Regions from separate parts of the Homo sapiens genome. Here region 1 is linked to region 2. A link means that fine-mapping ties the variant in region 2 to the expression of a gene that starts in the linked region. Tissue or cell type: whole blood. Region 2 holds a variant in brackets; the other region holds the start of a gene. All regions are shown on one strand. Distances are from middle to middle.

Region 1 (8,146 bases), 43 kb after region 2:
GACTAACAGAATCTCCCAGTTCACCTGAATGATGCCAATTACAATGCACCGAAGAATATTTATATTTTAGTTTACTAGTAGTCTTAACAACTGCATATCAATTTTTTTTTTTTTTTTTTAAGAGTCAGGGTCTTGCTCTGATGCCTAGGTTGGGAGTACAGTTGTGCAGTCATAGCTCACTGCAGCCTCAAACTCCTGGGCCCAAGTGATCCTTCCACCTCAGCTTCCTGGGTAGCTAGGACTAGAGGCGTGAACCACTGTTCCCTGCCTTCCATGTTATTTTTAATGGGAAATGTGGTTTAACTTCAAAAAGTGCCCAACAGATGGAAAAATGAATGGCACAAACTAAAGATGCCTTGAAGCACAAAGAACTTCAAGCAACTTTGTTAAGCAAATTAAGGAAAATAATTTTTTGCAAAGATAAGAAACTTCTAAATGTAATCCCTGTCATTAACCATACAAAGCAAACTAAACAACCCCCACGTTTAAAAGAAAACAGCATTCTTGGCCGGCGCGGTGGCTCACGCCTGTAATCCCAGCACTTTAGAAGGCTGAGGAGGGTGAATTACTTGAGGCCAGGAGTTCAAGACCAGCCTGGCCAATACAGAGAAACCCCGCCTCTACTGAAAATGCAAAAATTAGCTGGGTGTGGTGGCACACACCTGTGGTTCCAGCTACTCCAGAGGCTGAGGCAGGAGAATCGCTTGAACCCAGGAGGCAGAAGTTGCAGTGAGCCAAGATTGTACCACTGCACTCCAGCCTGGGCGACACAGCAAGACACCGTCTCAAAAAAATAAAAATAAAAAAATAAAGCATTCTTAAGTTCTAATGTTCTATGTAGGAAACACTGTTATCAGAGGTGACTACAGCTGAAACTCTTAGAACTGGATAGTTTGTAAGCCAAGGAACAAATATCTGTAATCATATCCATGGTAAAAACTGGCTTGCATGAAAAACATTGTTTAGTAAAAACTGTATTGGTAGCTTCAGGTTTGATAGCAAAGAAAGAATCCAATTATTTTTGCATGTGGCTTCAAACATGTTTTAAGATATTTTTTCTCAAACTTAGTGTTACAAAGTACAGGTATAATGCAAAAAAAAGGTGAATCACAGTTTTATAGACAATAGTACTCTAAGTAAGTCACATTATATCTATTTCAGGCAAGACCATAAAAAGAATTTCAAAGTTCTAGTGTCTTCCAACATCTCTCAGAAAAAATGATGATGTGGCAATTCTGTGGATAAAAAACATGGGAAGGGAAGCGTGTTTTCACCCAGGAGAAACAGTTAAGGACCATGCATTTGCAGTCTTTTCCATGTCTTTAAGTTCTCACTGGCTGCTAAGATTTATTGCAAAATATTAAAGAACACTGAACCATGCATTATGAACTAAAGAGATTTCACTGCCTGCTGAACAAAGCCTAAAATAGTGCATTCATAACTTACAAGTCCTTTTCAAAAACCAGTAAGAAAAATACCATGTCTGATATAGTAATTTAAAGTCGTGGTTAAATTTGAGCACTTTGGAATATAAAGGCCTTTCATAAATATTAAACAATTTTATTATTTTAATGTTAACCAATAACAATTTTGTCCCCATGAAGTCTAACAGTCTTCATTCAACTGGAAAAACCAAACACAAAAACCGTTTCTCACAAAAAATGTTTACAAGATATTAATTCAGTTTAGATAATGAATTCATGCTTCTTGAAAGTTTTTATAACTTGAAAATAGTTATAAATAGTTCTAAAACTAAAACTACATTTGTCAAGTTTTCTTTTAAAAAGCTTAAAGAGTACCAGCAAACGACTCCTAAAGTAAAAAATCTTGTTAAACCTGCAGATTAACTCATTAACAGTTGTTTAATTCTCCCACTTGGTTTTCTAGCCATTAAACAGAAGCCAGTCACTTCACTTTTCATCGCAAAACAACTCGTGAATACCTGTCACTACCGTTAAGACACACAGCTTGCTTAAACTTACAGAATGAAAGGGATGCTTAGTCAGACTAATTATTTCACTTTACAAATTAGAAAGTCGAAGTTCACGACAAAACCTGTGCAGGAAGTCAAGTTGCCATATTTTTATATTCTGCTAAGTTATTTTCACACTTAATTGCTGGGTTAATTGTTGAAAGAATAAATCTATGTATTAAAAACACTCGAAGTAGGCCACATTTTTTCAGCACAATACGATGTTTCCACAAACAAAAAATTGTTCCATGGAAAGACAAGAAGAGGAAGAAGGCAGAAGGGAGACATCCCACAGGGATTCTTCAGTCTGCTTGGCAGCAGGGGCGGATAACGGGGGTGACGATGGGGTAGTTTTTCTGAAATCAAGCCTCCTAGTAACACATACGGGTCAAGCAGGGCGTGAACAAGGCAGATGACCATTGAACAAGACACTCTGATGGCTTAGATGTGTAGAAAACAAGGGTTTTGGCAAATGAATGAAGACGGACTCCCGGCGTGGAAGCTAAAGACACGTCAGCCCTGAGCGCGAGGGGCTGGGGGTGGAGCGGAGCCGGAGGTGGCCAAAAGAAACAGCCCGGCTGCGGCGCGCTCGGAGCGCAGCCGTGTCCAGCGCCTCCTCCTGCAGCCGAGGACCCTCCAGTTCTGGCCGCTCCTGCAGGCGAGGGTCCAGGGCAAGAGGAGCAAGCCCAGCCCTCGGCCGGCCACGAAGCAAGGTCGCCCGGGCACGGCCCCGCGCTCCGCGTGCAAGGGGCAGGCCGCAGCGGGGTCTCCAGCGCCCGCGGGGACCCCTGCTGCTACGAGCCTAGGCTTGGGGAGAGGGCGGAGAGAGGCCAGCGGGGTGGACGCGGACCCCAGGACCCGGAGCGGCCACCGCCTCCAACTTCAAACTTGCCATCACTGGCATCTCCTTCCTGGCCATCCCCTCCGCACACTCCCCCAGCCTCACCTCTGGGGCCGCCTCGGAACAAGACAGTGGCAGGGAACACGAGTAAGAGAAGCAGCAGCAAGCGGGGGAGGAGTCTCATGGCGCTGCCGGTCCAGTGTCCAGTTTCCGTCGGCTAAGGCTCTCGGCGGCTCCGGCGGTAATGGCGTTACTCTTCATCCGGGCTCCGGGCAGCGAGGGGCGGGACACGTACCGCGCACGGGCCTTTGCCACGCCCCTCCCTGGACCAGGGACCGCCGCCGACGTGGCTGCTCAGCGCGGAGAGGTGGGGAGAGCAGGCCACCGGGAAGTCACGTGGCCGGCTGCTGCCTCTTTGTGGCTCCCGCGAGAGTCCGCCTTCCGCCGCAGTTGCGACCCGGCAGCTTGCGGTTAGCCGTTCTTTCCGCCCAGTTCTTTACTTCCAATTAATTAGCATTGTCAGTGGTTACTTTATTTGAATGACGATCCTCTTGATAACGGCGATGTAAGGAACATGAGCTGCCTTTATGTGGCACTTAAAAGCAAAAAATTTTGTTGGAAGAGAGGACATTGTTCAAAGGAAAAACCATGAAAATACACAGTGGAAAATCTTTGTCCCCTGTCTGCCCACACCCTCTCCCATGGTTAAGTAATGACAATTCTTAAATTATTATTTTTGAGACGAAGTCTTGCTCTGTCGCCCAGGCCAGAGTTCAGTGGCACCATCTCTGTTCACCGCAACCTCCGCCTCCCGGGTTCAAGCGATTCTCCCGCCTCAGCCTCCTAAGCAGCTGGGACTACAGGCGCGCACCACTACGCCCGGCTAATTTTTGTATTTTTACTGGAGACGGGGGTTTCACCATGTTGGCCAGACTAATCTCAAACTCCTGACCTCAGGTGATCCACCCGCCTGGGTCTCTCAAAGTGCTGGGATTACAGGTGTGAGCCACTGCGCCTGGCCAGCAATTCTTAAATTCGTATGTGACATTCCAGAATTATAAGTCACCTAAACAGTGTTTTGGTATGTAGTCAGCATTTGTAACTATACAATAGGTGCAGCAATGGCTGTCCAGTTTTCTTTAGTTTCCTTTTCATCTATTTTGGATTTGAGTTGCTGGAGTAATATAGCAGTTCATGAAATTAATCTGAATATTAAGTAATCTTGGTCTGGACCAGAGTGAGATGTCATAAAGATGAGGAAATAAATCATATGCTTACTATTGTCAATCACCTCCTTAGAGCTGTGCTTTTTCATTTAATTTTCTAAACCTCTCTATGAGCTGGATATTATTTACTGAGGAGAAAACAGACCCAGAGAGGTTAGTAATTTACTCAAAGCTTCAAAACGCTAGCAAACGGCAGATGCAAGATTTGAACAAGGCTATCTGGTTCCAGATTCCATACACTACTGACCTAGGACATTTGCTGTTCTACTCCTGCATTGTTTCCGCTTCAGGTCTCCTTGTCCTGGGGGCTGTAAATGCAGCTTGGACCCACTGCCACCACTACCTACAGTCTGCTAAAGTCACAGCCTGATGGTGCTGGGCTGAATCAACCAAATTCCACTCTGCCAGGCCACCAGTGGCACCGCTGCTGTGTTGCTGCTGCTACTAGGGCGCCCAGCATAAGTGGAGGGCCTCCTCTCACTTTGCTGCTGCCTCTGCTCCTGTGCACGCTACCAGTGTTGCCACTCTATGTCAGAGCTGTGTCTGGAATAGGGTTCTTGGTCTCACTGACTTTAAGACTGAAACCGCAGACCCTCGTGCTGAGTGTTACAGTTCTTAAAGTCCAGAGTTTGTTCCTTCATCATGTTCGGATGTGTTCCGAGTTTCTTCCTTCTGGTGGGTTCATGGTCTCACTGGCTCAGGAGTGAAGCTACTAGACCATCGCAGTGAGTGTTACAGCTGTTAAGGTGTCCATTCCTCCTGGTGGGTTCATAGTCTCGGTGGCTTTAGGAGTGAAGCTGCAGACCTTCGCGGTGAGTGTTACAGCTCATAAAGGCAGTGAGCAGCAGCAAGATTTATTGCAAAAAACAAAGCTTCTGAGAGGTGACAGCATGCTGGCAGTACTCAGCCCTCGCTCGCTCTCGGCGCCTCCTCTGCCTGGGCCCCCACTTTGGTGGCACTTGAGGAGCTCTTCAGCCCACCGCTGCACTGTGGGAGCCCCTTTCTGGGCTGGCCAAGGCCGGAGCCAGCTCCCTCAGCTTGCCGGGAAGGTGTGGAGAGAGGCGTGGGCGGGCGGGAACTGGGGTTACGCGCGGTGCTTGCCAGCCAGTGCGAGTTCCGGGTGGGCGTGGGCTTGGCGGGCCCTGCAGTGGGAGCGGCCAACTGGGCCAGGCGGGGGGCAGTGAGGGGCTTAGAACCTGGGCCAGCAGCTGCTGTGCTCGATTTCTCACCGGGCCTTAGCTGCCTTCCCGCGGGGCAGGGCTCGGGACCTGCAGCCCACCATGTCTGAGCCTCCCCCAACCCCATGGGCTTCTGTGCAGCCGGAATCTCCCCGACCAGCGCCACCCCCTGCTGCACGGTGCCCAGTTCCTTCCACCACCCAAGGGCTGATCAGTACAGGTGCACAGGCATGGGACTGGCAGACAGCTCCACCTGCAGCCCCAGTACGGGTTCCACGGGGTGAAGCCAGCTGGGCTTCTGAGTCTGGTGGAGACGTGGAGAACCTTTATGTCTAGCTCAGGGATTGTAAACACACCAATCAGCACCCTGTGTCTAGCTCAGGCTTTGTGAATGCACCAATCGACACTTTGTATCTAGCTACTCTGGTGGGACCTTGGAGAACCTTTGCGTCCACGCTCTGTATCTAGCTAATCTAGTGGGGACGTGGAGAACCTTTGTGTCTAGCTCAGGGATTGTAAACGCACCAATCAGTGCCCAGTCAAAACAGGCCACTCGGCTCTACCAATCAGCAGGGTGTGGGTGGGGCCAGATAAGAATAAAAGCAGGCTGCCCTGAGCTTAGCAGCGACAACAGGCTCCAGTTTCTTTCCATGCTGGGAAAATATCTGTTCTTTTGCTCTTTAAGCTCATATTGCCTTTATGAGTTATAACACTCATTATGAAGGTCTGCAGCTTCGCTCCTGAAGCTAGGGAAATCACGAACCCGCCAGGAAGAATGAATAACTCAAGATATGCCACCTTAAGAGCTGTAACGCTCACTGTGGAGGTCTGTGGGTTTACTCTTGGGCTAGTGAGATTACAAGCCCACCAGAAGGAAGAAACTCCGGATACACTGCCTTTAAGAACTGTAGTACTCACTGTGAGGGTCTGTAGCTTCATTCTTTAAGTCAGGGAGGCTAATGAGCCCCCAATTCTGGACACTGGAGTGGGACCTGAGCAGGTTGCCACTGATTCAGGCAGCCTGCTTTTTTTTCCGTTTATTTGGCTTCACATTCTGCTGGTTGGTTTATTTTAGAGCTGATTGGTGTGTTTTCAATTGGTGAGCTAGACACAAAGTTCTCCATGTCCCCACTGGGTTAGCTATACACAGAGTGTCAATTGGTGTGTTCACAAACCCTGGGCTAGACACAGTGCTGATTGGTACATTCACAATCCCTTAGTTAGACATTCTCCAAATCCCCACCAGATTAGAGTGCCAATTGGTGCATTCACAAACCCTGAGCTAGATACAGTGTGCTGATTGGTGTGTTTATAAACCTTGAGTTAGATACAGAGTGCTGATTGGTGTGTTTATAATCCCTCAGCTAGGCAGAAAGATTCTCTAAATCTCCACTAGATTCAGGAGCCCAGCTGGTTTCACCCAGTGGATCCCACACCGGGGCTGCAGGTGGAGCTGCCTGCGAGTCCCGCGCGGTGCGCCAGCACTCCTCAGCCCTTGGGTGGTCGATGGGACTGGGCGCTGTGGAGCTGGGGGTGGCGCTCGTCGGGGAGGCTCAGGCATGGTAGGCTGCAGGTCCCGAGCCTTGCCCCACGGCGGAGCAGGTAAGGCCTAGCGAGACATAGAGCACAGCAGCTGCTGGCCCAGGTGCTAAGCCCTTCACTGCCCGGACCCGCTGGCCGCTCCGAGTGCGGGGCCCGCCAAGCCCACGCCCACCCGGAACTCGCGCTGGCCCACAAGCGCCGCGCGCAGCCCTGGTTCCCGCCCGCGCCTCTCCCTCCACACCTCCCCGCAAGCTGAGGGAGCCGCTTCTGGCCTTGGCCAGCCCAGAAAGGGGCTCCCACAGTGCAGCGGCGGGCTGAAGGGCTCCTCAAGCGCTGCTGGAGTGGGCGCCAAGGCCGAGGAGGCCCCCAGAGCGAGCAAGGACTGCCAGCACGCTGTCCCTGCTTTGAGGTGACTGTACCTTACAGAGTTCTCCACTGACTCAGCATAATCTCCCTCCCCTACTTTGAGGCACCCTTTCATGAGTTTCAAATGAGACCTGCTCTGAGCTTGTTGATGTCTGACAGGTGTTTTGACAAATACATCTTTCTGTTTAACTTGCTACTCTCTCCTAACACCAAAAACAATTGATGGGAACTGTAATAGATGGTGAAGTTACAGACTTCATGCTGTACTCAAAATCACACCTGCTCTCCATCACGGCACCACCGTGTCTTACTGGCTTGCTTTCCCCATTCAGAGGACTGATTACTGAAGGGGACGACGTCTCATTCTTTATGGTAAAGAGATTCCTAGTAGGTCTGTCTCACCGGTTCTCAGATGTTTAGACGTAGCCTGAACATGTAAGGATAATTTAGTTTAGGCTTAACCTGTGACTTCCACTCCAATGATGATGTCATCAATCGATTACTATCGGATTTTATTTGGGACTTGAATTTTACACAACCAGCTACTATTGGTACAACAGGAAAAATAAAGTGTGCCTACTCGAGATATTACTGATGTGATGAATTTAGGGAAAATAACATGTAAACAGAAAACAGAAGACCTGTGTGACTGTCCAATTAGTATTAAAAAATGACAGCTGTGATCAAGGAAGTAAGGGGCTCACCCTGACCAGTGTGCTCACCAATTCTGCATCACTGTGATCCACATTCTTCCCGTAATAAGCAGCTTTTCCTTGGTGCCCACCCAGAGCTCTCTGCCCTACTTGGTTCCAATCCTTAATTTATGGAATTATGAATTCCATTTACTAATTTATTTAAGTCTTTCCAAATCTCTCCCCATGTCTGTACCAATCTCTTTGAAGGGATTTCTTTTCAGGGAATATTCCATATCCTGGTGACTCTCCTTCACAGACCTCAGACAAATCCGTAGTTGATTCTCCACATCTGTCATTTCATTCCCTTAGAATGTGTAAAAGCAGAG
Region 2 (8,194 bases):
TTTTTTTTTTTTTTTTTGAGACAGAGTCTTGCTCTGTCGCCCAGAGACTGAAGTGCAGTGGCAGGATCTCAGCTGAGAGGCTGTTTCTTATAGCTGCTCTTCCTAGATGATTGGAGTTGACTTCTTACTAGCCAACCCCTCACTACTCTAAACCTGTTACAGTTATGTCAAACTTCCCCCATTCAAATTAATATGTGGTTTCCTCTCTTGCTTGGTACAGCATTGGTACCATGAGTAGTCCCAGCCATAGACCTGCAAAGATGGGATTTGGAAGCTGGTTGTGCCTTTGGGCTTGAGCACAGTGCTGAGCTCCTTGCTGGTGGTACATTGGGTTCCTACTGGGAACAGACTTATCATTCCCAGGGGCCCTTCTTCCAATCCTGTGTAGCCTGCTGATAAATGATCACCCCTAGATCCAGGACGTGACCAAGCCCCACGGGTGATGGCAGCACAGCCTTCCAAGGGACATCTGGGGTTTCCACCTGTGACCTTGGTAACACTGGAAGCATTTCTGGGTGCTGGAATCAAGGCACTGCATGGATGCCCAGAAATGCTCCTAAGTGGCCTCAGAGCCACAGGTCTCTGCTGCACCGCTTAGGAGATGGCATCACCCTGAGCAAGGGACCCTGGCGGGGACCACTGGGCGGCGTGACCCAGGCTCACCCATCTTCAGATCGGGGCACTGGGTGTCTGTCATATGTCCAGAATACCATACTACTGTCACAGGCCGGGCTTGAAACCAAGGATGGGCACACAGAAGAGAAAGGCACATCTGGTCAAATCAAAGTGCTGCAAATATTGCGACTGTCCCGGCACCTCAGTCTCAGGAGAGCCAGTGAGGGCTTCCTTCAGTCTGGCTGATGCCTCATCTCTCTCCAATCCATCTTTTTCTCAGAGGCCCCTGTACCAGCATCACCCATCAGGGAACTGATCAGCAAGCAATTCTGGGCCCAATTCCAGGCCGACTGACTCAGAATTTCGGGGGTGGAGCCCAGCAGTCTGTGTGTGGACAAGTCCTGCAGGCAACTGTGCTGTGTGGTGAAGTGCAACAATTACTCATGTGCCAGGGGCAAATCCTGGCAGGCCCAGCCTGCAAATCACTGAATGCCCCCGCACCCCCGCTGGCTGACAGAGGCTTACCACCCGCCCCCAACACACACACTGTCAATCTCTGAATTCCCATGTAGAGCTTGTTTTAAAATGCAGCTTCCTGGGTCGGCTCCCTGAGATTCTGCTGGAGTAGGTATGTGTGTGTGTTCTGGGTGGTTCTGATGCGTGTGGCTCACAGGCTGAGTGTGCGATGCCTCTCTCTGCCTGTGACTCTGTGTGCACGTGTGTGCCTCTGTCAGGTGGCAAGTGAGCACTGCGTCTCCGCCCTCTCCTGTGTTCGCCTCAGATGCAGCGCACCTCTGCTCCTGTTGCCTCCCAGGTCCCCTGTGTCCTTCTTACCTTCACCTTTTTCCAAAATCCCCACTCCCATTCTCAAAGGCTCAGCTCAAAGATCTCCTCCTCCTGAAGCCTCTCGCCCCCCTCCCCACTCCCACCCACCACCCCCAATATGTTCTTGCTGCAAGTCCATAATATTAGTTATGGGCCCGGCTAGTGTGAAGACAGGCAGCGGCTGTCTTACTCAGCTGTGACTCCCCAGAGCCTGGCACTCAGCAAGAGATTCATACTTATTTGTAGGCCTTTCAATTCAGTTTATTTCAGTCTAATCTGATTCAGGGCAATTCAACTCCACTCACGTCAGCACAAGGGAAGAGCGCCCCGGAGCCCACAATGGGCACCAACACACAGACAGTGGCCTCAGGCAGCCCGGCTGGAAGGAGCCCACTGGTCTCACAGGCGTAACCCGTGTTTGCAGGCATAACTCGTGCGCACGTGTGGCACTGCTCGGCCTGGGCACCGAGCGCTCCCCGTGCCTCAGGTCCCTCCAGACATGCCCCCTCCACCGCCCCTCCTGAGGACGCTCATCTTTGAAAATGTCCTAAGACGGAACTGGAAGCTCTAAGGTACGCGTTCCAACCATCACGTGGCAGGGGCTGGTGGGCTTCACGCAGAGCCCCCTGTCTTCTGGCCTCATTCACCATCAGTGTAGTGGGTGGGGACAGCTGACCCAAGGGCCCTACTGCATGGGTCGCACGGTTCAGCCAGTCCTTGCTGGCGGGACCTGCATCCCCATCCTACTGGCTGGCAGAGTAGGACTGGTTTCCTGGGACATCTCCACCCAGAAACAGCACACGACAGCTGTTATTCATCAGCCACAAAGCCCTAGTGACACAGCCATGCCCAGCGGTGACTTCCCAGAGCCATCCGGCGGAGGGCCCGGTTGAACAGGCGGCTGCTGTCCTAAGTTTCACAAATTGCAAAACGATGCAGAAAAGATGGCCGGGTCTCCAGGAACGGCTGTGCTGGGGGATGTCCTGAAGCAGCCACGGCGGAAGCGCTGGCCTTGCACCTGGAGACTGCGAGGCGCCCGAGCTGCAGGAGCGGCCCGATGTCATCAGTGCGTCTCCCTCCTCCTGCGTCTGAAAGAGCAAAGGGAGACAGTGACCTCCTGAGAGGCTTCCAGACGCCCCGCCAGGCACTTCCCTACTGGTGCATGAAGTGTGTGGCTGGACAGAGGCAGCAGGGCGGGGGGCCCAAGACTCTCTGCTGCTCTGTCCAGGCCAAATAGTTCCCACAATCAAAGACCCAGAGACTCTCCCCTCACACCCATCCACCCTCCCATGAAGAAACACATGGAAAAATCTAGGATGGGGTTCCAAGTTTCTAAAACTGGTCCATTCTGTGATTCCCCAAAGGAAGGATAAATATCATGCTTTTTTCTTGGGATTTGATCAGAGTTTCATGCTTTCAGTGAGAATCTGGCATAAAAAGAAACCCCAACATTTAGCCATGCTTCACGAGTAAAGCAGTGAAAACTGCACACAAAGACCTATCTGGAGAGATTTGGAGGTTTCTGCTTTGTAACTCAATCAGCTCCGAAATCTCACTCATTCTTTCATTCACTCAAGAAATCTTAATATATTAAGTGCCTACTATGTGCCAGGCCCATAGGAGCTGGGGCACCATCATGAGCAAGATGAGGTCCCCTGAGCCTTGCAGTCAAGCGGGGGAAGAGACACACACCAAGATGGCTTGGTCAGTGCAGGTGAGGCACTGTACCCAGGACTCAGGTGAGGGAACAGACACCTACCCTAACTGTGGGTGCCTGGAGGGGTCTATGCAAGCTTTCTTAGAAGAGGGGTCATGAATACGGAGGTTGTAAAAAATAAATAAGACCCCACCATTCCCAAGTCATCAGTATCCACATCACCAGTAACGGGGCCAACCCAGCAGCACCATGTGGTCCTTGAGATGCTGAGCTGGGAAGGCCAGAGCATTGCTGCAGGGCTGTTCTTGCCAAAAAGGCAGAATCTGAATCTAATCCAGAGGAAGGATCACACAAACTCTCCCTGGGGTACTCTCTGCAAAACAACTAGCCTGCGCTCTTTAAAAATGCCAGGGACGCTGAAAGAGAGGCTGTTCCAGAACAAAGGAAACCAAGACATGACAACTAAACATACTGCGTGATCCCAAACCAGGAAAAAAAATAGCCATCAAGAGGATTGCTGAGACAATTAGTGAAATCTGAGCACAGCCTGTAGTTTAGAAACCATTACAAAAATGTTAAATTTCCTGACTTTTATAACTGTAGTTTAGTTATGTAAGAGAATGTTTGGGCCGGGTA[C/T]GGTGGCTCACGCCTGTAATCCCAGCATTTTGGGAGGCCGAGGCGGGTGGATCACCTGAGGTCGGGAGTTTGAGACCAGCCTGACCAACATGGAGAAATCCCATGTCTACTAAAAGTACAAAATTAGCCGGGTGTGATGGCGCATGCCTGTAATCCCAGCTACGGGAGGCTGAGGCAGGAGAATTGCTTGAACCTGGGAGGCGGAGGTTGCGGTGAGCCGAGATCACGCCACTGCACTCCAGCCTGGACAACAAGAGCAAAACTGTCTCTGAAAAAAAAAAAAAAAAAGAATGTTTGTTCTTAGGAGGTAAACACTGGTGGATTTGGGGGAAGGGGAAATAGCATATCTGCAATTCACTCCCAGAGAGCTCAGAAAAATATACATATGGTGGGTGTGTGCATTTGTATATGGTGAAATGCTAACCACGATCTGGGTGAAGGTGAAGGGCACAGGGAATTTCTTTATACTATTTTGTAACTTTTGTGTAAGTTTGAAGGTGGCAGAGAGTCTGGGAGAGAGGGCAGCCTGTGCAGGCAGGAGGTGGCACCAGTGTGGTGTGCACAGGGAATGAGCTGCTGGGCTGGAGTACAAATTCACAGCAGGACCAGTGAGACAGAAGGGCCAAAGGGCAGGCAGAGGCTAATGGTGGAGAACTTTGTCCTGATGGTTGTGGGGAACCTTTAGAAGGTTTCCAGCAGGAGAGAGCAACAGGGTCAGAATGCTATTTGACAATGACCACAGAAGCAGCTCAGGTGGTGGGCTGGAAGGGGACCAGACTGGCAGCTGGGAGAGTGGGGCAGGGCTCTCACAGCACTGCAGCCAAAGGCGGGCACCACGCCCACACGGGGCAGCACACGGGAACCAAGAGTTGCCACACATTCCTAAGGCCCAGAGCAGGGCAGGGCCGCCGAAGAGCTGGATATAAAAGACTGTTAAGAGGCAGGAGGATGGAGGGGGTCTGCACAAAGGGAGTTTCTTCTGGAAGCGATGGCACCAACCGAGACAGGAAAAACTGCAGGAAAAAGTGGTTTGGGGCTGGGCGCGGTGTCTCACGCCTGTAATCCCAACACTTTGGGAGTCTGTGGCGGGTGGATCACCTGAGGTCGGGAATTCGAGACCAGCCTGACCAACATGGAGAAACCCTGTCTTTACTGAAAACATAAAAAATTAGCCAGGCATAGTGGTGCATGCCTGTAATCCCAGCTACTCGGGAGGCTGAGGCGGGAGAATCGCTTGAACCCGGGAGGTGGAGGTTTTGGTGAGCCAAGATCGCACCACTGCACTCCAGCCTGGGCAACAAGAGCAAAACTCTGTCTCCAGAAAAAAAAAGAAAAGTGGTTTAGGGAAGGAAAATGATCAATCCCCATATGGAGTTCCAGGTGCCTCTGGGATACGGGTGTTTGGCTGGGTCTACCGTTCGCTGGAGAGAGTGGGGGCACTCCTGGGGCCAGCCTACCCACCTCCAGATCCTGGCTACCTTTCTCACTAGCTGGGCAGCCTTACCGTTCTATACCTCAATTTGCTCAGCTCTAAAATGGTGATATCATAACCTGTCTCAGATAGAGAACGGTATGAGTGAAGACAAGTCAGATGCTCTCAGATAGAGAACGGGATGAGTGAACACAAGTCAGATGCTCTCAGATAGAGAACGGTATGAGTGAACACAAGTCAGATGCTCTCAGATAGAGAACGGTATGAGTGAACACAAGTCAGATGCTCTCAGAGAACGGTATGAGTGAACACAAGTCAGATGCTCTCAGATAGAGAACGGGATGAGTGAACACAAGTCAGATGCTCTCAGAGAACGGTATGAGTGAACACAAGTCAGATGCTCTCAGATAGAGAACGGGATGAGTGAACACAAGTCAGATGCTCTCAGGTAGAGAACGGTATGAGTGAACACAAGTCAGATGCTCTCAGGTAGAGAACGGGATGAGTGAACACAAGTCAGATGCTCTCAGATAGAGAACGGTATGAGTGAACACAAGTCAGATGCTCTCAGATAGAGAATGGTATGAGTGAACACAAGTCAGATGCTCTCAGATAGAGAACGGTATGAGTGAACACAAGTCAGATGCTCTCAGAGAACGGGATGAGTGAACACAAGTCAAATGCTCTCAGATAGAGAACGGGATGAGTGAACACAAGTCAAATGCTCTCAGATAGAGAACGGTATGAGTGAACACAAGTCAAATGCTCTCAGAGAACGGGATGAGTGAACACAAGTCAGATGCTCTCAGATAGAGAACGGGATGAGTGAAGACAAGTCAGATGCTCTCAGATAGAGAACGGTATGAGTGAAGACAAGTCAGATGCTCTCAGAGAACGGTATGAGTGAAGACAAGTCAGATGCTCTCAGATAGAGAACGGTATGAGTGAACACAAGTCAGATGCTCTCAGATAGAGAACGGTATGAGTGAACACAAGTCAGATGCTCTCAGAGAACGGTATGAGTGAACACAAGTCAGATGCTCTCAGATAGAGAACGGGATGAGTGAACACAAGTCAGATGCTCTCAGATAGAGAACGGGATGAGTGAACACAAGTCAGATGCTCTCAGATAGAGAACGGTATGAGTGAACACAAGTCAGATGCTCTCAGGTAGAGAACGGGATGAGTGAACACAAGTCAGATGCTCTCAGGTAGAGAACGGTATGAGTGAACACAAGTCAGATGCTCTCAGGTAGAGAACGGTATGAGTGAACACAAGTCAGATGCTCTCAGGTAGAGAACGGTATGAGTGAACACAAGTCAGATGCTCTCAGGTAGAGAACGGTATGAGTGAACACAAGTCAGATGCTCTCAGAGAACGGTATGAGTGAACACAAGTCAGATGCTCTCAGGTAGAGAATGGTATGAGTGAACACAAGTCAGATGCTCTCAGATAGAGAACGGTATGAGTGAACACAAGTCAGATGCTCTCAGATAGAGAACGGTATGAGTGAACACAAGTCAGATGCTCTCAGATAGAGAACGGTATGAGTGAACACAAGTCAGATGCTCTCAGATAGAGAACGGTATGAGTGAACACAAGTCAGATGCTCTCAGAGAACGGTATGAGTGAACACAAGTCAGATGCTCTCAGAGAACGGTATGAGTGAACACAAGTCAGATGCTCTCAGGTAGAGAATGGTATGAGTGAACACAAGTCAGATGCTCTCAGATAGAGAACGGGATGAGTGAACACAAGTCAGATGCTCTCAGATAGAGAACGGTATGAGTGAACACAAGTCAGATGCTCTCAGATAGAGAACGGTATGAGTGAACACAAGTCAAATGCTCTCAGAGAACGGGATGAGTGAACACAAGTCAAATGCTCTCAGATAGAGAACGGGATGAGTGAACACAAGTCAAATGCTTTGAGGGTCCCAGGTCAGAGCTAAGTGCTCAGTAAGGGGCAGCAGCCCCCACCCATTTCAGGTGACCTTGCAGCTATGAAACAAAGGGTGAGAAGTATCAGGAAGGGGTCACGGAACACGGCTGGGCAGCAGGAGCCTCATCAGACACAGGCTCCCCCCGCCCTCGGCGTGCTGGTGCCAGCCTGCCACATGGCTGCTTAGGGACGTCGTGGCTGTCAGCCACAGCTTGCCCTGGGTAACGGTGTGCAGCACGCTTGTGGGAAAACCAGCAGCACTTGTTAAAATACAGACTCCTGGGCCCCAGCCCAGTGTCAGAGCCTCCCTGGGGATGGCATCCTGAACCTTGCACTTCAAGGAAGCCCCACCCTTTACCCCCAGTCTCGGGGCACTTTGCAAGTGCCACAGAGCAGGAAGGAATTGCTGAAGTAACGTGTTTTGGAGGGAGAGAGCTAATGGCCATCATTTCCATCTTTTATCTCAGGTCATCACTTGGACCCTTTAATTTACATAATTCAATAGAATCTGTAAGGTTTCAAGGAGCCAGACAATTATCTTAATAAAGGCAGTGTTTCCTTGAAAACAAAATTGCTCTATGGAAATATATATATTATATATATATTATATATAATATATATATATATAATATATATTATATATATATATATAATATATATATAATATATATTATATATATATAATATATATATATATTTTTTTTTAAGACAGAGTCTCGCTCTGTCGCCCAGGCTGGAGTGCAGTGGCTCAATCTTGGCTCACTGCAACCTCCGCCTCCCAGGTTCAAGCAATTCTCCTTCTTCAGGCTCCTGAGTAGCTGAGATTACAGGCACGTGCCACCATGCCCAGCTAATTTTTGTATTTTTAGTACAGACGGGGTTTCACCATGTTGGCCAGGCTGGTCTCAAACTCCTGACCTCATGATCTGCCCGCCTCGGCCTCCCGAAGTGCTGGGATTAAGAGCCACTGCGCCCGGCCCGGAATATAGTCTTTAAAACACCCATGTAGGCTGCAGGACATTTGACCTTGGCCTGGATAACATGATTGTTCACAAAGAAAGAAGTGATAGCTCTCTTCAAACACATC

What was found. PIP is the estimated chance that this variant, and not a neighbour inherited with it, causes the effect.
Region 1: it holds the start of SSR1, and the variant in region 2 is fine-mapped to the expression of SSR1 in whole blood (TOPMed, PIP 0.99).

The regions. Positions count from the first base shown.
Region 1 is chr6:7,310,124-7,318,269 of GRCh38, forward strand. It overlaps SSR1 (signal sequence receptor subunit 1), which reads right to left and starts at 3,076. Exons shown (of 8, transcript NM_003144.5): 1 at 2,919-3,076. The coding sequence starts at 2,997. RefSeq lists enhancers at 2,240-3,108, 3,109-3,975, 3,312-3,381, 3,392-3,451 and silencers at 2,532-2,581, 2,712-2,821.
Region 2 is chr6:7,266,627-7,274,820 of GRCh38, forward strand. No RefSeq gene overlaps it. Among named protein-coding and RNA genes, the nearest start is that of SSR1, 42 kb to the right of the region's middle. RefSeq lists enhancers at 710-1,211, 6,806-7,307 and a silencer at 790-1,084. The variant C/T (reference allele first, on the strand shown) is at 3,734.